Linked DNA regions of Homo sapiens. The protein of the gene in region 1 interacts with the protein of each later gene in a biochemical or structural test. Each region holds a gene or a part of one and is shown in the gene's direction. Other genes may lie near its edges.

Region 1 (3,500 bases):
TCTCCTCCCAGAGGAAAAGGCTCCCTGTCACCCCATCGCTAATGCAGATAGCGTCATGTCCAGGGAAGCTGTCACACATTCATCTGGGCCCCCAACATCAAGGACACCTGTCCCTGCAGGCCCCCTGCTGGCACCTTCGGGGCCCAGGGCAGGCCCCTGTCCATTCCGTGTCTGCACTTCCCTCCCTGGTCACAGGTTCTCAGGGGCAGGCTCTTTTCCTTAGCAGAAAGGAAACAAGGGAAGCTGACCTTTCCCACCTCAGAACAAAAGTTGGAAGGGCAGGTGCCTCGTGAGCCTGGAGGCCTCAGGAGGGGTGTCCCCTTCCCTTGTGCCCTCCCCGCCACCAACACCAGTGGACAGGGATCACTAAGAGAGTGGGGCTCGGGAGACTCACCTTCTGCGCTGGGTCTGTGAGAACATCACCTGGAGTGCCCCTCCCAGCGGATGCTGGGGTCGGTTGGATTTTCAGCCTGGCCAGGGTTGGCTGCCTCACCTCAGGAACAGGCTTAGCCTGTGCTGCCACGTGGGTGCCGGTCCTTGCTCTGGCCTGAAGGGAGGGGGCCGGGAAAGGAGGGACTGATCCTGACCCAAACCCCTAAGTAAACTGCCCTCTGCGTCCAGACTGGACTCCCCCCAGACTCTGTCCAGGCCCTTACCACTGCCCTCCCTGTGCCCCCAGCCCGGGCTGCAGGAACTATTGGCTGTTCAGCCAGCAGGAGCAGCAACCATGCAGGTGTTTCCAGCTGTTAACGTGTAAGCCCTGCCTGGCCACGTGCTTGCTCTTGCCTTTTGTGCACAGCCAGTGCCAAGGGGGAGAGGAGGCAGCAGAGACGTTGTGCGGAGGGGATGCCCAAAGGGGACTGCCCAGGCTGGGACAGCCCTGATGGGGCAGGGGCGTTCCAGGAAACAGCAGGTTTTGCCTCTCCTCCTCTTCCCACCCCACTACTCCCACCCCATTTTCCCGGATCAGGAAAAGGCAGGCCAGCATTCTAGGGAACAGGAAGTGAAGTTGGCTTCCAGCTAGGTGCCTGCCAGGGCCTGGAGGAAATTCCTGCAGGCCTGAGCCCGTCTGGGAAGGACCAGTTTCTCTCCTTGTCCTGGTGTCCTGCTTTCTGAGTTTCCCCTGAGGGTGGGGGAGAGCTGTCACTCTCTTCACTCTATGTCCCGCTTCCTCCCCCATCCTCATGGAGCACTCAAACCCTGAACCCTCACACCTTTCTATGGTTGTACCCGTCCCCACCAGTTTCCTCTCTGGAAAGTGAAGAGGAGGCTGGGCACGGTGGCTCACGGCTGTAATCCCAGCACTTTGGGAGGCCGAGGTGGGCAGATCACAAGGTCAAGAAGTTCAAGACCAGCCTGGCCAACATGGTAAAAGCCTGTCTCTACTAAAAATACAAAAATTAGCCGGGCGTGGTGGCAGTTGCCTATAATCCCAGCTACTCAGGAGGCTGAGGCAGGAGCATCACTTGAACCCGGGAGGCAGAGGGTGCAGTAAGCCGAGACTGTGTCACTGCACTCCAGCCTGGGCGACAGAGCGAGACTCCATCTCAAAAAAAAAAAAGAAAGAAAAGTGAAGAGGATAGAGCCCACTAGGGGTCATCAAGGTGTGGGACAGGCAGCATGTTCCTACAGGAAGAAAACTCTAACTCCTGGTTCTGGTTCTTTTTCATCTCATTCATTCATTCATTCATTCATTCATTCATTTGTTTTGAGATGGACTCACTCTGTCTCCCAGGCTGGAGTACAGTGGCTCGATCTCAGCTCACTGCAATCTCCGTCTCCTGGGTTCAAGTGATTCTCATGACTCGGCTTCCCAAGTAGCTGGGATTACAGGTGCCCACCACCATGCCTGATTAAGTTTTGTATTTTCAGTAGAGACAGGGTTTCACTGTGTTGGCCAGGCTAGTCTTGAACTCCTGACTTCAAGCAATCTGCCAACCTCGACCTCCCAAAGTGCTGGGATTAAAGGTGTGAGCCACCGCACCTGGCCATCTCATACTTTCACAATTCATTCTTTGGTGCAAGTTTTACAATATACATTCTATATTTGTCAAGTGATAACTTCCATGTAACTTATAAAATACACATAATTCAGGAAGATTGTGCTAAAATACATTTAACCAATAGGAGTATGCCGTCAGAATATTTTGGCAAACAAGGGTCACTAAGTTTTTTCTGTAAAGGGCCAGGTAGGAGGTATCTCAGGCTTTGTGGCCATATGGCCTCTGTGGCAGCAGCTCAGTTCTGCAGTTCTGCCATGAAAGCAGCCACAGATAAGAGGTAATTGAGTGGGTGTGGCTGTGTTCCAATAAAACTTTATTTCTGGAGGCTGAAATTTGAATTTCAGAGAAATTTCATGTGTCATGAAATATTATTCCTCTTTTGGTTCTTCTTCCCCCCCTCCACCGCCCCCTGCCAAGCATTAAAGAATGTGGAACCCGTTCTTAGCAGCCGGCTGTGGGCTGGATTTGGTCCATGGACCATAGATTCCCAGCTTCTGCTCTAGACCACCCGTTCTCAGACTTGAAGCCTGCTTCAGACTTACCTGGAGAGCTTTTTTCCAAAATGCATATTCCAGAACCCCAGCCCTGATTTTGTAGATTTTCTGGAAGGCCCCAGAACCCGCATTCTAACAAGGAGCCCAGTTGAGTCAGACACAGGTAGTCTGGAGTCCACTTTTTTTTAAACAGAGTCTCAGTCTGTTGCCCAGGATGCAGTGCAATGGCGTGATCTTGGCTCACTGCGACCTCCGCCTCCAAGGTTCAAGCAATTCTCGTGCCTCAGCCTTCCGAGTAGCTGGGATCACAGGTGCCTGCCATCATGCCCAGCTAATTTTTGTATTTTCAGTAGAGACGGCATTTCACCATGTTGGCCAGGCTGGTCTCAAACTCCTGACCTCAGGTGATCCACCAGCCTCAGCCTCCCAAAGTGCTGGGATTACAGGCGTGAGTCACCGCGCCCGGCCAGGAGACCACATGTTAAGAAGCAAAGCTCAAGGGTCTCCAGGATCCTGGTCTGTTCTCTTCAGCCAGTCCTGAGGCCTGGGGTGTGCAGTGCTGTGGGAGACCCCTGCATCAGAATAACTGGCTCCTTCACTACCTTCCAGGAGCTTCCATCCAGTGGGGGTGGGGGACACCACCCGCCAACAGCACAGCCCAGTCCCAGGTGCTATGGAAGCCCTGGGTTCAGCCTGGAGCCAGGGCCAGCGTCCCGAGGATGAGGTGCCGAGATGGACCTTGAAGGATGAGAGAAGCCTGGACTGCCCTTGAGTGGCGAGGGTGGGCTGCCTCCAGGTTGACCTTAATCCCTTCCCTCCCTACCACCATGTGTCCAGATGACCTTGGGCAGGTCCCTTAGCCTCTCTGGATATCGGGATATGACATTGACTACCTCAGAGACTTGTGGGGAGGATTCGGCGAGCTGATATGCATGAAGTGTATCAACTAGGGCTGCTGGCTGGTATCTCCTTCCCTTGTCTTCCCCCACCACCCCAGCCAGGG
Region 2 (3,500 bases), on another chromosome or scaffold:
TGTCCGAGCATGCTCTGTGGAGTTGATGCGTGGCCCTGGAGTGTCCGGTGCTTCAGTGACCCGAGCTGCTGTGTGCGTGGCCTCCGTCCGCCCAGTCATTCTGGCCTGTCTGTGACTGCTCAGGGGGTTTGGGCAGAGTGGGTGGAAATGTCTTGCTGTACGAGATCCAGGCTTAGGTCCCTTCCCCTGTTATTTGTGTGGTGCTGGGGATGGCGGGGGTAGGGGGACGAGGGAGAAGCTTTAAGGGTCAAGCCTGAGCATCTGGGACACGAGCTGGGAGCTAAGCCTCATCGGAAGAAGCCGGGTAGGCTGGCCTGGGAAGGTTCTTGGAGGCAGCAGCCCTCTAGAGTGTGAGGAAAATGTTGGGATTGCAGGTGCGCTCCCCTGGGGCCCCAGGGCCCCTGACTCTGAAGGAGGTGGAGGAGCTGGAGCAGCTGACCCAGCAGCTAATGCAGGACATGGAGCATCCTCAGAGGCAGAATGTGGCTGTCAACGGTGAGCCCACCCCACCGGGACACCCCCACCCTGCCCCCACATCACGGTGGGGGCCAGGGCTGTGGCTCCACTCCCTATCTGAGCTGGCTGATCCCTCGCAGCTCTACATACTTCCTTCTATTTACTGCTGTCTTCTCTGGCCTTCCCAGAACTCTGCGGCCGATGCCATCAACCCCTGGCCCGGGCGCAGCCAGCCGTCCGCGCTCTAGGGCAGCTGTTCCACATCGCCTGCTTCACCTGCCACCAGTGTGCGCAGCAGCTCCAGGGCCAGCAGTTCTACAGTCTGGAGGGGGCGCCGTACTGCGAGGGCTGTTACACTGTGAGTCGGGCTGTGCTGGGCTGTGCTGGGCTGTGCTGGGCAGTCGGGCCCTGGAAGCTTGCTGTGGGGTGCCGGTTCCCTGCCAACCTCCTCCTGCTGCCTCCTCAGGACACCCTGGAGAAGTGTAACACCTGCGGGGAGCCCATCACTGACCGCATGCTGAGGGCCACGGGCAAGGCCTATCACCCGCACTGCTTCACCTGTGTGGTCTGCGCCCGCCCCCTGGAGGGCACCTCCTTCATCGTGGACCAGGCCAACCGGCCCCACTGTGTCCCCGACTACCACAAGTGAGGACCTGCCACCTGCCTTCTGGGTTCCCGGCGTGCTTGGTCTGGTAGCCCGGCTGCTTGCTACCCTAGCCTCAGGACAGCCCCAAACCCCTGGTGGTGTTTTCTGGTCCCATGTCCTGTCTGTAAACAGCAGGGACCAAGTCATCGGGATGTAGCTGTCCAGGGGCCTTAGGCCTGGGCATCGAGTCCTGCTGCTGTCTGGTCCCTCCCTCGCCCTTGATCACTGAAGCTTATTGTGGGTGTATGTCAGCATTTCGTGAAGTGTGCTGGAGTGACTTCATCTCACACACAGGCTGGGTTCTAAAAGTTCTTTTGGAGATCAGCTGTTTGGATTTCTGGTTTCTCCCCAGAAATAGTGTTTAGAAGGTGGCTACTTTTTCAGGCTGACCCGCAGAACCTCAGTGCAGCTGTGGGAACAGTGCAGAATCTGACCCCCACCTCTGACAGAGTGTTTGGGTAAACACTTTCAGGATTCCATCTGGGGTGGCCACAACTTCACATCCCTCCACAGTGCCAGACAGTCAGGGCAGAGGCAACGTGCATGGGGGTGGGAGGATTGGGGGAAGGTGAGGGTCAGGGACCCAGGATGGGATGGGAGGGGTACCTCAGGGCTGGCTTTCTGCAGGAGCTGCAGTGTGAATGGGACAGTAAGGGTCGAGTGGGAGAGAACACCGTGGCAGGTGTGTGGGAGGCTCCCTTGCTTTGGGAGAGTGACTGGTGAGGCAGGAAATTCCCTTTGATGAGGGCCAGTCATGGTGTCTCACTCTTAGGCCCTTCTGGTGAGCTTCCTTCACCTGGAGATGCAGGGCAGAGAAGTCTGCTTCCTTGCTGCCCAACCTGGCTTATGCGTGCGCACACCGGGGATGAAAGCCCTGGCTAACTCGGCTGGCCCTTTCTGCCCCTTCCAGGCAGTACGCCCCGAGGTGCTCCGTCTGCTCTGAGCCCATCATGCCTGAGCCTGGCCGAGATGAGACTGTGCGAGTGGTCGCCCTGGACAAGAACTTCCACATGAAGTGTTACAAGTGTGAGGTCAGCCATCCCTCTGGACTCCTTGGGCAGGTTCTGACCAGGAGGTGGCGGGAGATGCTGCTTACTAACTGGGAGGTGGAAAGCACCAGCATTCAGGAAACAGGGCTGTGATTTTGAGGGTGGCTCATGGTGGCACCCCATCTGTCCTGCCAGAATGCTTCCTGCCACTGCAGGAAATGGGGCTGTGGGGCTTCTGAGGTCACTTTGAGTCATGGATAAGCCAAGAAATGGGACAAGCCAATAGGAGAGAAGAAGGGCATGGTGTTTTACCGTGGTAGGGGATGGGGAAACAGGAGCTGAGAGAAGAGGTCTTCGAATGGAGGTGAGCCAACCTCTATTTTATTAGGGTGGTGGTGGGCAGGGGAGCAAGCACCTTGGGAGCAGCTCTACCCACTGCTTGCCCTCTTGCAGGAAGGTCCTAGTGGGTGACTGGAAGTAGGATAGGGATGGGGAGTTGGGTGTGGCTGGAAAAAGCGATGACACCAGCTCTGAGCCATGAAGCATCTTTCTAATTCCAAGATGGAGCTGGATGGGGTGGGGTAGGGTGGAGCAGAGCAGGGGCCTTCCGGTCCAGTGCCCCTCACCCTTCCTTCTTCCCAGGACTGCGGGAAGCCCCTGTCGATTGAGGCAGATGACAATGGCTGCTTCCCCCTGGACGGTCACGTGCTCTGTCGGAAGTGCCACACTGCTAGAGCCCAGACCTGAGTGAGGACAGGCCCTCTTCAGACCGCAGTCCATGCCCCATTGTGGACCACCCACACTGAGACCACCTGCCCCCACCTCAGTTATTGTTTTGATGTCTAGCCCCTCCCATTTCCAACCCCTCCCTAGCATCCCAGGTGCCCTGACCCAGGACCCAACATGGTCTAGGGATGCAGGATCCCCGCCCTGGGGTCTGGTCCTCGCCCATCCTGCAGGGATTGCCCACCGTCTTCCAGACACCCCACCTGAGGGGGGCACCAGGTTTAGTGCTGCTGCTTTCACTGCTGCACCCGCGCCCTCGGCCGGCCCCCCGAGCAGCCTTTGTACTCTGCTTGCGGAGGGCTGGGAGACCCTCCAGGACATTCCCACCCTCCCCCATGCTGCCAAGTTGTAGCTATAGCTACAAATAAAAAAAAACCTTGTTTTCCAGAATTCTCAGTAGTCAGCTCTTTTGTAGTGCCTGCAGCCCTCATGGGTGGGATGGAGGCAGAAAATCAGTTCCTGTTTATTTACAAAAATATATATATGTGTATGTATGTATATATATTAACCCCTCAGCTCCCTCCCATGATCATCCTTTTACTTCTACCCCCACCTCCCTTTTAAAACAAAGAGGTTTTCTGGGGTGCAGAGCAGGGTTCTCCTGAAAGTGGGCAGAAGCAGCA
Region 3 (3,500 bases), on another chromosome or scaffold:
TTGTAATAACAGGAAATAAAACAAGGGCTGTGAGTGGTACAGGTGAGAGAAACACACTCGAGAGGCTGCTACCGGCAGGCGGACACAGCAGGGCAGGGCCAGGCGTGCAGAGCAAGCAGCCAAGCTGACCTAATGGTTGGGGGGTCTCTACCCTGTGGTTCCCTAATTGGGGGCGAATCTACCTTGCAGTTCCCTCATTTGGGGAGGGGTTATCTTTACCTGCGGTTCCCTAAGTAGGGGGGTCTTTACCCTATGACTCCCTAACTGGGGAGGTCTTTACCCTGCGGTTCCATAACTGGGGGGTCTTTACCCTGCGGTTCCCAACTGGGTCGGGGGTCATTACCTGGCGGTTCCCTAATTGTGGGGGAATCTACCTTGCAGTTCCCTAATGTGAGGAGGGGATATCTTTACCCTGTGATTCCCTTACTGGGAGGGGTCTTTACCCTGCGATTCCCTAACTTGGGGGATCTTTACCCTGTGGTTCCCTAACTAGGGGGGGTCTTTACCCTGCAGTTCCCTAAATGGGGGGGAGTCTACCTTGCAGTTCCCCAGTGTGGGGAGGAGATATCTTTACCCTGCAGTTCCCTAACTGAGGGGGTCTTTACCCTGCGGTTCTCGAACTAGGGGGTCTTTACCCTGCAGTTCCCTGAGCACCCCAGGAACATGGTACTGTTTAATTCAGCATAAGCTCACCACAAAGGAGAGCTCCTAACGAGGCCTCTCCCGCTCGCAGGCCTGAGAACACCCACAAGTCCACTCCAGCGAGCTACCACGCAGACATCAACCTGCTCTACTGGAGCGACGAGGAGGCCGTGGTGGACTTCAAGGCTGTGCAGGGCCGCTGCACCGTGGAGTATGGGGAGGACCTGCCCGAGTGCGTCCAGGTGTACTCCATGGGCGGCCCCAACCGCTTCTACTTCCTCGAGGTGGTGCCCCTGCTTGCTAGAGGGAAGGCTTCGGGGTCAAAGTTGGCCAGAAGGAGTCTGATGTCGGGTTATACACAAGGCGGCTTGGCTGCAGGGTTTCAGCTTTTGTAAGAAGTGGGTGGTTGGCTGACGTGAAGCTGTTCTGCAGGAGCTTTACGGGGGTCTGAGCAGGGTTCTCCAGAGCACAAGTTGTATGAGATTCAAGTGGTCCCGGAGTTTAACACTCCTGGTTTTTAAAAAGTACGTCATTAGAGAACCTAACGTTTTAGTGTCTTGGTGCAACTGAACGTTGAGGACCATGAGGCAGCTTCCACCAGCCTGACTGGTGTCTTAGTATGAGTTGGAGAAGGTGCCCCTGCTCCTGGGTCCCTTGGGCCAGGCGCCTACGTCCAGGCCCAGCCCACATGCCTGTGCGGGTGGCCCTCGTTATGGAGAGGGCCCACGAGTCAGCTGATCAAGCTCATGACTTGTAAATTGTTGGGGCTTGGCCTTTCCGTGTTGTTACCTTAAAACGATACATCCACGTTCTCCCAGGCATGGATGAGGTAGCCCAATTGGACAGCAGATTCTGCATAGCACTTTTTCCTGTTCTAGAAGGTACTCTCAAGTGCTTGTAATAGGCATTTCAGTGTCAGCCAGATCAAATGTTAGTATTAATAAAATGGATTGTTTTAAGTTTCTATTGTAGCAAAGTCAAACTACTCTTATTGGTGGCTAATTGGTCATGGCCCCACTGAGGGAGAAATTAAGTGACTATCAAATTGCCTTCTTACTAGTCTGCGTTAGAGAGGGGACAGTGCGTTTCTCTCCCAAACGATTGCAGTTCTCTCCTTTTCAGGCCTATAATGCAAAGAGCAAAAGCTTTGAAGATCCTCCCAACCATGCCCGTAGCCCTGGAAACAAAGGGAAGGGCAAGGGAAAAGGTACGTCATTGTATGAGTTTCTTTTCAAGTTATTCTTCTGTAACTTGGAGGCTGCCTGTGAATCCCTCAGTGTAAAACCACCTCTGGTGTTACTGACTCTGGGACAGCGAGGCCGCCTGAGTTAACAAGGCGCTTGAGAGCAAGGTGGACTTGGACTCTGAGGATCGGGTTTAGCCTCTGGCCTCTCTCCCCCAGGGAAGGGCAAGCCCAAGTCCCAAGCCTGTGAGCCGAGCGAGCCAGAGATAGAGATCAAGCTGCCCAAGCTGCGGACCCTGGATGTGTTTTCTGGCTGCGGGGGGTTGTCGGAGGGATTCCACCAAGCAGGTGAGCGCCCGTAGGCTCCATCTCTGAATACCTGGTGAGCCCAGACCGGGCAGGTGCTACCTGAAACGACTTCCAACCCCGGTCACCTTCCTGACTCAAGAATCTCCTTCCGAGGCCAGGCACGGTGGCGCACGCCTGTAATCCCAGCACTTTGGGAGGCCGAGGTGGGTGGATCATGAGGTCAGGAGTTTGAGACCATCCTGGCCAACATGGTGAAACCCCGTCTCTAATAAGAATACAAAAATTAGCTGGGCGTGGTGGTGTGTGCCTGTAGTCCCAGCTACTCAGGAGGCTGAGGTGGGAGAATCGCTTGAACCTGGGAGGCAGAGCTTGCAGTGAGCCAAGATCACACCACTGCACTCCAGCCTGGGTGACAGAGCGAGACTCCATCTCAAAAAAAAAAAAAAATCTTCTGGAGAGTTGAAAGCATGGCTTCGTGCTTGATCTGCCAGGCATCTCTGACACGCTGTGGGCCATCGAGATGTGGGACCCTGCGGCCCAGGCGTTCCGGCTGAACAACCCCGGCTCCACAGTGTTCACAGAGGACTGCAACATCCTGCTGAAGCTGGTCATGGCTGGGGAGACCACCAACTCCCGCGGCCAGCGGCTGCCCCAGAAGGGAGACGTGGAGATGCTGTGCGGCGGGCCGCCCTGCCAGGGCTTCAGCGGCATGAACCGCTTCAATTCGCGCACCTACTCCAAGTTCAAAAACTCTCTGGTGGTTTCCTTCCTCAGGTAAACGGGTAGAAGCCCCCCAGTGTTGCCAGACGGCCCGGGGCTGTGCCGCATGTCAGCAGTGGTCATTTTCGCCCTGCACTGAGGCCTCTGCCCCCCGGAAGCTCACAGCTCAGCTCTCACCAGGGAGAGACTTTGATAACATTCGTGAGGGGCTTCCGGCACAGTGGGTCGTTTCTTCCCTCTGTCTGTGGAGGTGACTCCTGCAGTCTCTCCTGCCCCCTACAGCTACTGCGACTACTACCGGCCCCGGTTCTTCCTCCTGGAGAATGTCAGGAACTTTGTCTCCTTCAAGCGCTCCATGGTCCTGAAGCTCACCCTCCGCTGCCTGGTCCGCATGGGCTATCAGTGCACCTTCGGCGTGCTGCAGGTGGGCCCTGGGGCTGGGGCGGGCAGACAGATGTGGCCAGCACGTGACCCGGCCAGCAGCCAGCCATCCCTTACTGAAGGCAGGGTTCAATGGCATAGGCCTGCCATCCAGGCAGCAGAGGCTGGCATGGTGCTCTGTCCCACTGGCGGAGTCAGGGGAGATGCGTGCTCAGCCGGCCCCCAGCAAGTCCACCGCTAGTGTCTCTTGAGCTGTGTTCTCGAA
Region 4 (3,933 bases), on another chromosome or scaffold:
CTCCTGTATTGGACAAACTAGTTCCTGGGCTGCACTCGTGGCAGGAAGAGCAGAGATTGGATGGGAAGGGGAGGTAATAAAGTGATTAGAGTAAAAAGGGAGCAACCACAAGGGGCTAGGCTGATCACCCAGTGGGAGAATGGGGGAAGGCCTGGTTTTATCCACAGATGTGTGCATGGGTGAAGGACCGTGGCTGCAGATCTTGGTCTTGGCATGAGGTGTGGGAGGAGCGTAGGGCTTTAAGCCAGGAGACTGGGATCGTCCTTAACGTGATACTTTCTAGCTTTGTGACCTTTGGAAAGTCACTTTACATTTGGAAAGTCAGTTTACATTTCTTTCTCTGTAAAATGAAGGTAATAATGTTTGCCTAGAGGGTTATTAAAATTGAATGTAGTAATATAAAAATACTAAACCCTAGATAAATGTGGTTGAAACTGATTATCTGACTAATCGTTTTCTAATGTGTATCAACATAAATCATTTGCATTATGGTTTCTTGCCTTCTCCCCGCTACAGTAAAAATAAATAAATAAATAAATAAATAAATAAATAAATAAATAAATAAAATAGTCCAGTGTTACCCGAACCCCAAAGGGGACTGTTGTGCCAGGTGGTGGGGGATTTGGGACCGTAGGAGGGGCCACCATGGGCAGATGTGGTGAGGGAGGAAAGGAGAGCAGAAGAGGGGACCCGATGAGCAATCCTTACACCCTACCTGCAGTGTCGAAACAGCGTCCCGCCCACACACTTCCGGCAGAATCTCCCGAAGTCCACACCTCTCACTCCAGCCTGGACTTTGATGCTGTGGGCACGCCTCAGAGCCAGAAGTTTATGGCTCCCACCTGCTCAATCTGACAGGAAGCTTCTGCTCCCCAGTTCTCCCCAGCCACTGTGGTCTACAGATTCCAGGAAACCCATCCCCCTGTGACCTCATGGTGTGCTCTGTTCTCCACCCTAGGGACCAGAAGGAGCCAGGAGTAAAGAACTGGCTTACTTGGCCGCCACTGGGAAATTCTGGGTAATTCGAGACGCCCTGGAATTTGGACCCACTCCGCTGATAGGTGGTGGCCAGGGTTCTAGGGAACACAAGAGGCGGAGCCAGGTGGCTTCCCTGTGCTGGCATTCTTGCCTCTCTCTCTCTTTCTCTCTCTCTGTCTCTTAGCCTTGCAGCCGTTTCCCTCTGCGATTCATGTAAGTGTGACTCGATTTCAGGGAAAGGGAACTCGCGTGGGCTGAGGAGACCGGAGTGGACGGGCTGGGGAAGGCACCGTGATGCCCGCAACCCCGTCCCTGAAGGTGGTCCATGAGCTGCCTGCCTGTACCCTCTGTGCGGGGCCGCTGGAGGATGCGGTGACCATTCCCTGTGGACACACCTTCTGCCGGCTCTGCCTCCCCGCGCTCTCCCAGATGGGGGCCCAATCCTCGGGCAAGATCCTGCTCTGCCCGCTCTGCCAAGAGGAGGAGCAGGCAGAGACTCCCATGGCCCCTGTGCCCCTGGGCCCGCTGGGAGAAACTTACTGCGAGGAGCACGGCGAGAAGATCTACTTCTTCTGCGAGAACGATGCCGAGTTCCTCTGTGTGTTCTGCAGGGAGGGTCCCACGCACCAGGCGCACACCGTGGGGTTCCTGGACGAGGCCATTCAGCCCTACCGGGTAAGAAGTGTAGCTTTACCTAGGGCCTGTTTGGGGCAGGATGATGTCCTGTTATGAGGGGAGGAAATCGGGCGGGGATCTGGATGAAAGGCTTCCACATCAGGGAACCCTAAGGTTACAGGGACTTTCGAGGCATTCCCAGACTGAAGGCAGATAGGGCTCCACTTGGATGTGTGGTAGTTCCTGGTCTGGGGGGAACTTCAGCTCCAGCTCTCAGAGGACCCCACAGAGGTGGAGTGCAAAGAACTGTAGCCTTGGCTTCACTCACTATGGAAAGAAAGCTCCAATGCCGAGTGGGATCTTCTGCAGATTATGGGCAGGGTAAACTTGTTCTCCCAGGATCCAGACTGGAAATGGGGTTTATAGGGCCCTGACTGCCAGGGCGCAGAGGGGAGGGAGGAGCTGGGAAGGGGAACCTGCTAGCACTGCTCTTCTTCTTGAGAAAGGGAGGGTGGCAGTAGTCCAGAATTGTGAGAATTCCCCATCTGGCCTTGGGGCACTTTCCTGTCAGCCTCTCAGATCTCTCTCTTGTCATCCAGTCACCAGGTCTGGAAGTGGTTACCTTAGAAACATCTCCCAAATCTTTAATTCTGCCTTATCCTCACAGCCAGGTTCTCCCTATCTCTTGCGCAGACTTTGCAGTCTCCATGGCATTTCCTGTCTCCATTCTCACCCTTTCCAGTCACCTTCCAATCTGCTGGGAGACAGATCCTCCTAAAACACAAAGTCACTCATCTGCACAAAATCCTCCCATGTATACCTAGTGCCCAAAGAAAGTCCAAGGTCTTTAGCAAGACATTCAAGGCCCTTTGCAGTCGGGATCCTTCCTCCCTGTCCGGCCTCATCGCTCAGCCTCCCTCCTCAAGGCACCACGTGTCTGGCCAGACTGAGCTGCACTTGCTGTTTTTTCCTGAGTTGTCTTATTCATTCCTGCTTCCAATACTTTTTGCACATAGTCTCTTCCTCCTAGAATACTCTTCTCCCTTCCTCCCACCTCTCTCTCTGTTTTTAAGTATACAATTCAGGGGCACTAAGTCCTTTTCTTTTTTTTTTTATTATACATGTTCTGGGATACATATGCAGAACGTGCAGGTTTGTTACATAGGTATATACGTGCCATGGTGGTTTGCTGCACCCATCAATCCATCATCTACATTAGGTATTTCTCCTAATGCTATCCCTCCCCTAGTCCCCCAAGCCCTGACAGGCCCCGATGTGTGATGTTCCCCTCCCTGTGTCCATGTGTTCTCATTGTTCACCTCCCACTTATGAGTAAGAACATGTGGTGTTTGGTTTTCTGTTCCTGTGTTAGTTTGCTGAGAATGATGGTTTCCAGCTTCATCCATATCCCTGCAAAGGACATGAACACATCTTTTTTATGCCTGCATAGTATTCCATGGCATATATGTGCCATATTTTCTTTATCCAGTCTATCATTGATGGACATTTGGGTTGGTTCCAAGTCTTTGCTATTGTGAACAGTGCTGCAATAAACATATGTGTGCATGTGTCTTTACAGTAGGATAATTTATAATCCTCTGGGTATATACCCAGTAATGGGATTGCCAGGTCAAATGGTATTTCTCATTCTAGATTCTTGAGGAGTTGCCACACTGTCTTCCACAACGGTTGAACTAATTTACACTCCCACCAACATTGTAAAAGCATTCTTATTTCTCCACATCATCTCCAGCATCTGTTATTTCCTGACTTTTTAATGATCACCATTCTAACTGGTGTGAGATGGTATCTCATTGTGGTTTTGATTTGCATTTCTCTAATGACCAGTGATGATGAGCTTCTTTTCATAGGTTTGTTGGCCACATAAATGTCTTCTTTTGAGAAGTGTCTGTTCATATCCTTCACCTACTTTTTGATGGGGCTGTTTGTTTTTTTCTTGTAAATTTGTTTAAGTTCTTTGTAGATTTTGGATATTAGCCCTTTGTCAGATGGATAGATTGCAAAATGTTTCTCCCATTCTGTAGGTTGCCTGTTCACTCTGATGATAGTTTCTTTTGCTGTGCAGAAGCTCTTTCATTTAATTAGATACCATTTGTCAATTTAGGCTTTTGTTGCCATTGCTTTTGGTGTTCTAGTCATGAAGTCTTTGCCCATGCCTATGTCCTGAATGGTATTGCCTAGGTTTTCTTCTAGGGTTTTTATGGTTTTAGGTCTTACGTTTAAGTCTTTAATCCATCTTGAGTTAATTTTTATTTCAGGTGTAAGGAAGGGGTCCAGTTTCAGTTTTCTGCATATGGCTAGCCAGTTTTCCCAACACCA
Region 5 (3,305 bases), on another chromosome or scaffold:
GTAAGGAGTCTGTTGTGTGGTGTGCAGGTCCCGTCACTTTGTTCTTCACTGAAGGATTCCCTCTCACTGAGAAATCTCTAACATCACCTGCTGCAACAGCTGTGCCCTTTGTTTTCCTTTGGATAATCCTGGTTTTCTTTTTTTAATGATTTTCTGTTTAGCTATCAAAGGATTTTCACCACAACATAAGATCACTAGCTTCGAGGAAGCCAAGGGCTTAGACCGAATTAATGAGAGGATGCCGCCTCGCAGAGATGCCATGCCCTCTGACGCCAACCTTAACTCCATCAACAAGGCTCTCACCTCAGAGACTAACGGCACGGACAGCAATGGCAGTAATAGCAGCAATATTCAGTGACCACTTCCTGTTCACTTTTTTTTTTTTTTTTTTTTTTTTTTTTTGAGCTGCGGGGCATGATGGGGATTGCTGCATATCAGCAGTTGGATGTTCTTGCCTCTGACAGTAGCTTATTTGCTCTGGGGGCCAGGAATTGGATTCAGTTTACACTATCATTAAAAAAGAGGGAGAGAGATAATAAACTATATTTTGGTGGGGATGGTGATTAAACACCTCTTTTGGGTATGCCTTTTAAAAATGCTTATAGAGAAAAAAAATTTTAAAAAGAAAGCTAATGCTAGTATATACTGCAATGTTAGGGGAATGAACATGTTTTCCTACTGCATTGGGGACTTCTAGATAGGTTAATGAAAGGCCTTTTATTCTGTTACTGGACATGAAAACTTTGTCTAATTTCTTACTCTATTGTACGTTTACAGTCGCAGCACTAAAAATGGATGACATCAAACATTTTTAACAAAATGATGTACAAACTAAGGACTATTTATTGATAATGTTTTGCTACTCTTGTCAGACAATGGCTATAAACTGAATTAGGCAGTCTTAAAAAAAAAAAAAAACAGAAAAAGAAAAAAAAGAACGTTGCAAATTTGTTAAAATGCCAAAAAGGACAGTTTAATTTTGTACAGATTATGCTTACCTCAGGTTTCTTTAGTGTGCTTGAATGCCCTTCTTTCCATATAACACTTATCTTCTTCTTAATTCGGCAATGGAATATCTTTTAAGTTTTAAAAAAACTGGAATAATTATATCTATCTTTTTTGCCGTTTATATTTAGGGGTTTTTGTTGATAAAATCAAGTCTTGGTTGTGGCTTGCTGAATTAAATATTTATGAGTGGTGCATTTTTAAGTATAGTGAACAAGACACCATATTAAGTACAGTGATAAAGCATCTATATTCTGTAAAAAAAAAAAAAATCTGCCTATGCATGTTTTTTAAGAAAAAAAAAATGGCTGTATCGGCCTGTATGGGACTGTAATGCGCTTAGTGGTCTGACATATACTGGAAATGTATGTATACTGGCGTACTTTATATTCTCTAAAATGCTTAATGCCTTTGAAATTTTGTAATCAAAAAAAAGCTTTGAAAAAATCTAAAGGGGAGAGTATTCTTTAAAGTTTTTAACATAAGCTTGTCAATGCACATGTAGATGGTTAGCATGTTTAGCAAACCTTGTGAAATTATAATAAGTTTGTAGTTACATGTGAAACTCTAAATGCATGGCAACTGTTAATGTCATAACAGTTTAGTTATTTTGTTCTGTTCTGTCATGTGCCACAAAATATGTACTTTTTTCACTTTTTTCCCTTTGTATATCAGTTACGGGTTACAACTGGTTCATTCTGAAAACAACAACAACAAAAGTCCATTCATATTTTTTAACAATTGTATAAGTGCCCAAGTAATTCACTACAGCCTAAAGCCTTGCCTTTGTAATTTGACTTCTGACATGTTGGCAATCAAAGCATGCACTTGTAACAATGAAAAAGAAAAAGCATTTTATATTACTACTCAATAAAATGTGCATGAACTTACAGAATTCTCATCCTTCCACTGAGTCCGCTGAAGGGATTTATGTGCACAACCACCATGTGTCTTCTAGGTGCTGGCCCACCACCACACATCACAGGCTGATTTCCACAGGCTTCTTCCTAGGGGCCTCGTGATCTGAGGGGTGGTGCCTACTTCCACTGTAAGAAAGAATCTTGGTGGATTTGTGTCTCAAATCAGATAAGAGAAGCCTGTTTAAAGAGCAGATGCCATCTTCTGGCTTCCTCAAGGAGCCAGTTAAAAAACCAGAGCATTCCTTTTTATTGAAAAATAAAATTAATTTGTTATCAGGTTGTTTCAGTTGTATTGGATGCCCTATCTATCTGCTAAAGCAAAAAGTACTAGGCTACTAAGTGCATTTTCATCACAGAAAAGAGTTGCATTTGTATTAACAAGAAATTTGTATACCCACGCTTCAGCTACTATCTAATCATCACCCGAAGATTTAAGATACACCAAATTTCAGTTTGTTTGTAACATTGTTCATCTTTAGTGCACTTTGTTTTATATAATAAAGTATGCCTGTTATATTAAATAATAAGAATATGGCAATTAGCGATATAGCATACCCAAACAAAGATGTTCTCGATACAGTCTGGCAAAGACTATCCCAAGGTTATTTTAATGAATTCAGACATTTTTTCCTGTGGATATTTCTCCATCCTAAAAAAAGTGGCAACCAAGGAAAATATTTAGATGCAACTTACTAGAGTGATGATGTGAAAGAAATGGTGATTCTGGTATCATGGTGTTTATTTTCTTTCTTATAACTGCAGAGAAAATATCCTGACTAAAAAAAATTCATTTTTTTGGATTCCTTTCTTTTACAAATTGTGCTGAGGCAACTATGGCATAGAAATAAACATTTGACATTAAAATAAGCAGTTGATGTGAGTATTGCTTGGTCTTTCTGATGAGTGGTTAGGAAAGTAATACTGTGTATTTTTCCATAATAGTTTGGTCTCTCAAAAAAAGTTGATAGAGAACTAGTTATTTCTTCAAAAGGGATAACCTTTCTAGACCATCAGTTATTAGGTTTCTCTCCTTCACTTTTGGAGAAACTATAGAAATCTTTAGTTGCTCATGCCAGTGTACCTCTGGTTACACACACAGACACAGACATACACACAGAAACAACCTCCTGTCCCCCGACCTCCTGCACCCAGTCCCCACGGTGACTTCACTCTCATGGGATTCAAACTCAGTGCTGAATTTTCAACTGTTTTCAAGAACGAAGAGCTAGATTTGACGGACCCTGCATCAGCTGTTTTTCCTGTCTAAAATATCCTCTACTTCTGTTCTCCGTAAATGGTATTTGAGAAAAAGAAAAATCTTCAGAAACCAAACTTGTGTGATGAGATGAACGAACTGGAGGGGAAGAGAAACATCTCTGC
Region 6 (3,500 bases), on another chromosome or scaffold:
CAGAGCGAGACTCAAAAAAAATAGCACAATTCTAACAATATGCCACCATCACTGCTGATGAACTGGATAAGAGGGGACTAGTGTCACGTAAAATTTACCATCTAAAAAACAATTTTAGGCCAGGCGCAGTGGCTCACGCCTGTAATCTCAGCACTTTGGAGGCCGAGGCGGGAGGATCACCTGAGGTCAGGAGTTTGAGACCAGCCTGGCCAACATAGTGAAACCCTGTCTCTACTAAAAATACAAAAATTAGGCCAGGCGGGGTGCCTCACGCATGTAATCCCAGCACTTTGGGAGGCCAAGGCAGGTGGATCACCTGAGGTCAGGAGTTCGAGACCAGCCGGACGAACATGGTGAAACCCCATCTCTATTAAAAATACAAAATTAGCCGGGCATGGTGGTACATGCCTGTAACAGTCCGCTACTTGGGAGGCTGAGGCAGGAGAATCGCTTGAATCCAGGAGGCAGAGGTTGTAGTTAGCCGAGATCCTGCCATTGCACTCCAGCCTGGACAACAAGAGCAAAACTCTGTCTCAAAAAAAAAAACAAAACAAAAATTAGCCGGGCGTGGTGGCATGTGCCTGTAGTTCCAGCTACTCAGGAGGCAGAGGTGAGAGAAACGCTTGAACCTGGGAGGTAGAGGCTGCAGTGAACTGAGATCGCGCCACTGCACTCCAGCTTGGGCAACAGAGTGAGACTCCATCTAAAAATTTAAAAATAAAATAAAAAACATTTTTAAGTATATAATTTAATGGTATTAAATACTTTCATCATGTGCAATCATCAGTCACCATAACTCATCTTGTAAAACTGAAACTCTGTACCCATTAAAACATAACTCTCCATTCCCTCCACCCCCTAGCCCCTGGCAAGGACCACTGTCCTTTCTTTCTCTATAAATTTGAGTAAGTACTTTATCTAAGTGTAATCATACAGTATTTATCCTTTTGTGACTGGCTTATTTCACTTAGCATAATGTCCTCAAGGTTCATCTATGTTGTACCATGTCAGAATTTCTTTCCTTTCACCTGGGCAGCATACCAAGACCCCATCTCTAAAAGAAGTTTAAAAGAATGTTTCAAAGGCCAGGCCCAGTGACTCACGCCTGTAATCCCGTACTTTCTGGGGAGGATCACTTGACACCAGGAGTTCAAGACCAGCCTGGGCAACATGGCAAGACCTCTTCTCTACCAAAAAAAAAAATTAAGAAGACATTAGTTAGGCATTGTGACATGTGCCTGTAATCCCAGCTTCCCAGGAAGCTGAGGCAGGAGAATGGCTTGAGTCCAGTTCGAGGCTGAAGTGAGCCATAGTCATGCCACTGCACTCCATCCTGGGTAACAGAATGAGACCTTATCTCTTAAAAAAAGTATATCTTTCCTTTTTATGGCTGAATGTTATTCCATTGTGTATAAATGCCACATTTTGCTTATCCATTCATCTGTCAGTGGCACTTGAGTTGCTTCCGCACCTCAGCTGTTGTAAACAGTCCTGCTGTGTATATGGCCACATATAAAAGGTCTTTTAACTTTATTAAGCTTTGTTTTCTCATCTGTAAAATGGAAAAGGGCCTGCTCTGCATGGTTGCAGAGATGAGTGAGTGTTAGTGTGCTTGACACTCTTCCTCTGAGGAAATAGCACCCGTGGTTGCCAGTTTGTGGCTACTGGAGCCTCACATGGCATTTGGAGGTGTGGCTCACTACCCCACCCCCGCCTGGGGCTCCAGGCTAACCCAGGCAAAACTGTAGGTGCTCTCTGACCCTCAGTGTGCTCCCTCTCGGCCCACAGCCCCCGGTCCCTGAGAAGCGGCCCCCTGAAATACAGCATTTCCGCATGAGTGATGATGTCCACTCACTGGGAAAGGTGACCTCAGGTCAGTCCCATCCCCCACCCCCGGTGGCTTGATGTGGTCTGTTCTGAAGGTTTCGGTGATAGGCCCCACACCATTCTCTCTCTTCTTCCAGATCTGGCCAAAAGGAGGAAGCTGAACTCAGGAGGTGGCCTGGTAAGCAGCAGAGGCAGAGCCTCTACCCCTCGGGGGCTGCTCTGAGGGAGGGTCAGAGGTGGGGCTGCATCCCATCCTCAGTAGAAATGCGCAGGGTGTCAGTGGCCTCAATTTTTCTGATCTTTTTCTAGTCAGAGGAGTTAGGTTCTGCCCGGCGTTCAGGAGAAGTGACCCTGACGAAAGGGGACCCCGGGTCCCTGGAGGAGTGGGAGACGGTGGTGGGTGATGACTTCAGTCTCTACTATGATTCCTACTCTGTGGATGAGCGCGTGGACTCCGACAGCAAGGTGAGACAGAGCTGGTCTGCCCTCCCCGCCGGTGCTCCCCCAGGGCTGGGGCTCACTGTCCAGTCCTCCTTGTTCCCTGTTTTTCTGCTTTCTGTCCTTTTTATCTTCTGAATATCCACTAAGTCATTGCCCCATGCTGTCTATAACTCCTTTTTTTTGTGGGGGGAGACGGAATCTCATTCTGTCGCCCAGGCTGGAGCGCAATATCACGATCTGGGCTCACTGCAACCTCTGTCTCCAGGGTTAAAGCAATTCTCCTGCCTCAGCCTCCCGAGTAGCTGGGATTACAGGCACCTGCCACCACGCCCGGCTAATTTTTGTATTTTTAGTAGAGACGGGGTTTCCCTGTGTTGGCCAGGCTGGTCTCTAACTCCTGACCTTAGTTGATCCACCCACCTTGGCCTCCCAAAGTGCTGGGATTACAGCTGTGAGCCACCGCGCCCAGCTGTAACTCATTTTCAATGTGTATTCTGCCCGTTTCATCCACAAAGGTGGCCACCACCCTGCACATGGGATTTAGTATTCTTTTTTTTTTAATCAGCTAATGAAATGACCATTTAACAGACATGTACTGTTTAAAAAAAGAAAACAAAAAAAGAAATGACCAGAAAGCACTTTTTTAAAACATACGTTATGCTGTTTATATAAAATTCAAAAGCATTGCATTGTCATTTATTTGCTTATTTCGTTGCTCTTTGTCTGGTTTTATCTTATATGTTTGCCTACACAGTAGAATGTTTAGTCTCTCTGATTTTGCCTTTTATTTAACATTTTATCATGAAAACTTGCAAGCATAATCAAAAGAGTAGAATAGGGAGCCCCCATGTACCCAATACACAGCTCCAGCCATTATCAGTACACAGTCCATCTTGACCCATCTGTACATCTCCCAGCACACACACCTACTAGGTTATTTTAAAGCAAATCCCAGACCTCATATCATTTTACCTAAACATATATCCATATAGATTTGTAAATATAAGGCCTCTTTTTGTCGTTCAACATCATTACACTACTGTTTTCACACCTAAAAAAACTTACCGATTTCTTAATACCATCAAATATCCTGTCAGTCTTCACATTTCCTCAGCTCTCACAAATGGTTTTTGTCAAGATCCAAATGAGGCCCACACCTTGATTTGATTAACATTTGTCTTAGGTCAGCCAGGCACAGTGGCTCACGCCTGTAATCCCAATACTTTGGGAGG
Region 7 (3,500 bases), on another chromosome or scaffold:
GGCCTCCCAAAGTGCTGGGATTACAGGTGTGAGCCACTGTGCCCGGCCTACGTACCTTTTTTGATGGTGAATTTTATGATGTATGAATTATATCTTAAATTATTTTAATGTTAAAGAAGCCAATGGGGACAGTTTTCTCTACCTTCTAAATATATCTCACCACCTCTTTTACTATCCTTTTCACCCAAGCCACTGCCATCTGGAGCCCCAATCAAGCACTTGCCTTCCGGCGAGTCTTTCTACTTGTGCCCTTCACTTCTTAAAGCTCTGTTTTCAGCCAGACTGATTCTGTTAAGATGTAAGCCGGATAATCCTCTTCCTTTTCAGAATGACTTCCCATCTTACCAAGAACAAGATCCTTAGTCCTTATCACAGACTGCACACCTCTGTGTGGTCTGGCTCCTACAGCCTCTGTGAGCTCATGTCCTATCACTGAACTTCTGCTGGTCTGCAATCCAGCCATATTGACTTCCTTATGGTTTGTAAAATGTGCCAGCAGGCTCATGGCTCAGAGCACTGGCACTTGCTGTTCCCTCTGCCTAGAACGCTCTTATTTCCATGTGGCTCACTAACTGCTTTAAGCATTGAGTATCTGTTTACAGGGTCGTGCTAACAGAAAATGTTCATTAGTTCATTAGGCATGATCATGGTGTAGTATTTTACCTATGTAAAGTAACACCTCTGTTTCCTCTTTCCCCGCTTTTTCTTCTTAGCACTGTAACCATCTGATATGTTTTGACATCTTTTTTTTGACCCCTTTAGAATGTGAACACAAATTTACTGCTGTATCCTTGGATTTAAAACAGGGCATGCCACATAGAAGAGGGCACCAAAAAAAATTGCTGCTTAAATGAATAAATGATTATCTACTGCCCTCTTTTTCTGTACCACTTATGCCAACTTCAAAGAATACTTTGGCTACCCATGTGCTACTACTGCTCTAATTTTTCTATTTAGAAGTTCTTAGAAAATTCTAGAATTTCTAAAATTAAATTCTTAAATATATGTGGTTTTCAATAATCTCTGACATATTTCTGTAAATACAATTCTCTTTTCTTCCTTTTTTTTGGTTCCTGTTTTTTTATTTCAGATGGAGTCTCACTAGGTTGCCCAGGGACTACAGGCACACCACTGTGCCCAGCTATAGAAACAAATATATATTCAGATAGAAGTTTAGTGTTAATTATTTAATTTGCCCTATTAAAAAGAATTTAAATGATTCCTGTTTGAGAGAATTGCTCCTAAGCCTGGAAATACCTTTGCTGTGATACTTTAATCTTCAGAGGAACTCTCAATTTTTTTTATTTATATTGAGTTGTATCAAAGGTTTATACTTCAAAACAAAAAAAGATTGAGACAGTTTATGTTTTCCGTATTCAAACAGATCTACTTTCCCTGTTTGTCTATTCCGTTAGTTTATCCTTCTGTCTTCCTTAAATAACTTTTTTTTTTAAGATCGTGTTGCGTACCAATCCTTAAATAACTTTCTTTTGGCAAACACCTTACCTTGCCACTCTGAAATATGAGCCTACCAAAGAGGGATAGCTACTTTGCTAGCGGCCTACATTGCTAAAGACTAGAATTTTGAACCTGGAATTGCTAAAATGTTCTTTTTTTTTTTTTTTTTTTAAATGGAGTCTTGCTCTGTCACCCAGGCTGGAGTGCAGTGGTGTGATCTCGGCTCACTGCAAGCTCTGCCTCCCAGGTTCACGCCATTATCCTGCCTCACCCTCCCGAGTAGCTGGAACTACAGGCGCCCACCATCATGCTCGACTAATTTTTTGTATTTTTAGTAGAGATGGGGTTTCACCGTCTTAGCCAGGATGGTCTCAATCTCATGACCTCGTGATCTGCCCGCCTCAGCCTCCCAAAGTGCTGGGATTACAGGCGTGAGCCACCGTGCCCGGCCCAAAAATGTTCTTTGTGTGTGTGTGTGATGGAGTCTCACTCTGTCACCCAGGCTGGAGTACAGTGGTGCCATCTCGGCTCACTGCAACCTCCGCCTCCCAGGTTCAAGCGATTCTCCTGCCTCAGCCTCCCGAGTAGCTGGGATTACAAGCACACACCACCACACCCAGCTAATTTTTGTATTTTTAGTAGAGACAGGGTTTCACCATGTTGGCCATGCTGGTCTCGAACTCCTGACCTCAGGTGATCCACCTGCCTCAGCCTCCCAAAGTGCTGGGATTATAGGCGTGAGCCAACACGCCCAGCATGATGTGTTTAATTTATTATGTTTTATTTCCTCACGCTAAACTTTAATCCGTAAGCATTTTTGCACTTTGGGAGTCTGAGGCGGTGGATCACTTGAGGTCAGGAGTTCGAGACCAGCCTGGACAACATGGTGAAACCCTGTCTCTGCTAAAAATACAAAAAATTAGCTGGGCATGGTGGTGGGCGCCTGTAATCCCAGCTACTCGGGAGGCTATGGCAGAACGATCACTTGAACCTGGGAGGCAAACGTTGCAGTGAGCCCAGATAGCACAACTGCACTCCAGCCTAAGTGACAGAGTGAGATTGCGGCTCAGAAAAAGCATTCTGTTTTTAAAAGGGTGCCTATGTGTCTTTATCTTTCGCACCACTAACCTCTGAGTCTGAACCTCTGTCTCTTCTCATCTTCCCTGCTGCAGTGGCTTCCTTTGTGGAATCCCTGCCTCCAGTTTCTCTCCTGTAATATCTCCTAATGGTACTATAAAACACCCCTTTGACTGTATTATTACTCTACTCAAGTACCTTCCATTCTACTCAAGCACCTTCCAAGAGTCCCGGGTATCTACAGGATAAAGTTTAAATTTCTTTTTTTTTTTTTTTTTAAGACAGAGTCTTGCTCTTGTTGCCCAGGCTGGAGTGCAGTGGCGCGATCTCGGCTCACTTCAACCTCTGCCTCCCGGGTTCAAGCGATTCTTCTGCCTCCGTCTCCCAAAGTTTGGCCGAGCACTGTGGCTCCCAGCACTTTGGGACGCCAAGGCGGGCAGATCACCTGAGGTTGGGAGTTCAAGACCAGCCTGACCAACATTGTGAAACCCCATCTCTACCAAAAATACAAAAATTAGCTGGGCATGGTGGAGGGAGCCTGTAGTCCCAGCTACTCGGGAGGCTGAGGCAGGAGAATCGCTTGAACCCGGGAAGCAGAGGTTGTGGTGAGCTGAGATTGTGCCATTGCACTCCAGCCTGGGTGACCAAGCAAGACTCTGTCTCAAAAAAAAAAAAAAAATTCTTAACCTTTTGTGTAACATCCTTCACCACCTAGACCCCAGCATAGCTTTCTAGCTTCCCCTCACATAATTCTTCTCTTGCTAAATTTTCCAGCTAAACCCATTGCCTTATTATCTCTTACATGTCTTTCCTTTTTGTGTGTTGATGCTCTCTGCCTAATGCCCTCCTTGCTCTCCACATATCCATACCATAGACTCAAAAATGTTTACCCTACACCTTGCCTTTTCCCTGAGGCTTCTCAGGCAGTTCTAGCTTGAGCTCCTCTATATGAAGAATACTTATTA

What was found.
Region 2: the proteins of LASP1 (region 1) and ZYX form a complex in vitro, tested with the Homo sapiens proteins (one study listed by BioGRID).
Region 3: the proteins of LASP1 (region 1) and DNMT1 form a complex in vitro, tested with the Homo sapiens proteins (one study listed by BioGRID).
Region 4: the proteins of LASP1 (region 1) and TRIM15 form a complex in vitro, tested with the Homo sapiens proteins (one study listed by BioGRID).
Region 5: of the proteins of LASP1 (region 1) and PPP3CA, one has a biochemical effect on the other in vitro, tested with the Homo sapiens proteins (one study listed by IntAct).
Region 6: the proteins of LASP1 (region 1) and EHMT2 form a complex in vitro, tested with the Homo sapiens proteins (one study listed by BioGRID).
Region 7: the proteins of LASP1 (region 1) and COPS5 form a complex in vitro, tested with the Homo sapiens proteins (one study listed by BioGRID).

What each region holds. Positions count from the first base shown.
Region 1 is NC_000017.11:38,908,058-38,911,557, forward strand, and holds part of LASP1 (LIM and SH3 domain protein 1), read left to right. Parts: intron 1-3,500. UniProt on the Homo sapiens protein: Plays an important role in the regulation of dynamic actin-based, cytoskeletal activities.
Region 2 is NC_000007.14:143,387,845-143,391,344, forward strand, and holds the end of ZYX (zyxin), read left to right. Parts: intron 1-374; coding exon 375-495; intron 496-644; coding exon 645-814; intron 815-922; coding exon 923-1,101; intron 1,102-2,012; coding exon 2,013-2,133; intron 2,134-2,733; coding exon 2,734-2,838; 3' UTR 2,839-3,267; downstream 3,268-3,500. UniProt on the Homo sapiens protein: Adhesion plaque protein. Binds alpha-actinin and the CRP protein. Important for targeting TES and ENA/VASP family members to focal adhesions and for the formation of actin-rich structures.
Region 3 is NC_000019.10:10,139,454-10,142,953, reverse strand, and holds part of DNMT1 (DNA (cytosine-5)-methyltransferase 1), read left to right. Parts: intron 1-733; coding exon 734-926; intron 927-1,764; coding exon 1,765-1,849; intron 1,850-2,044; coding exon 2,045-2,173; intron 2,174-2,625; coding exon 2,626-2,908; intron 2,909-3,136; coding exon 3,137-3,278; intron 3,279-3,500. UniProt on the Homo sapiens protein: Methylates CpG residues. Preferentially methylates hemimethylated DNA. Associates with DNA replication sites in S phase maintaining the methylation pattern in the newly synthesized strand, that is essential for epigenetic inheritance.
Region 4 is NC_000006.12:30,162,413-30,166,345, forward strand, and holds the start of TRIM15 (E3 ubiquitin-protein ligase TRIM15), read left to right. Parts: upstream 1-1,133; 5' UTR 1,134-1,189; coding exon of another isoform or gene 1,190-1,191; 5' UTR 1,192-1,272; coding exon 1,273-1,653; intron 1,654-3,933.
Region 5 is NC_000004.12:101,022,918-101,026,222, reverse strand, and holds the end of PPP3CA (protein phosphatase 3 catalytic subunit alpha), read left to right. Parts: intron 1-161; coding exon 162-358; 3' UTR 359-2,805; downstream 2,806-3,305. UniProt on the Homo sapiens protein: Calcium-dependent, calmodulin-stimulated protein phosphatase which plays an essential role in the transduction of intracellular Ca(2+)-mediated signals. Many of the substrates contain a PxIxIT motif and/or a LxVP motif.
Region 6 is NC_000006.12:31,891,199-31,894,698, reverse strand, and holds part of EHMT2 (histone-lysine N-methyltransferase EHMT2), read left to right. Parts: intron 1-1,036; exon of another isoform or gene 1,037-1,337; intron 1,338-1,788; coding exon 1,789-1,873; intron 1,874-1,964; coding exon 1,965-2,005; intron 2,006-2,136; coding exon 2,137-2,292; intron 2,293-3,500. UniProt on the Homo sapiens protein: Histone methyltransferase that specifically mono- and dimethylates 'Lys-9' of histone H3 (H3K9me1 and H3K9me2, respectively) in euchromatin.
Region 7 is NC_000008.11:67,052,134-67,055,633, reverse strand, and holds part of COPS5 (COP9 signalosome complex subunit 5), read left to right. Parts: intron 1-3,500. UniProt on the Homo sapiens protein: Probable protease subunit of the COP9 signalosome complex (CSN), a complex involved in various cellular and developmental processes.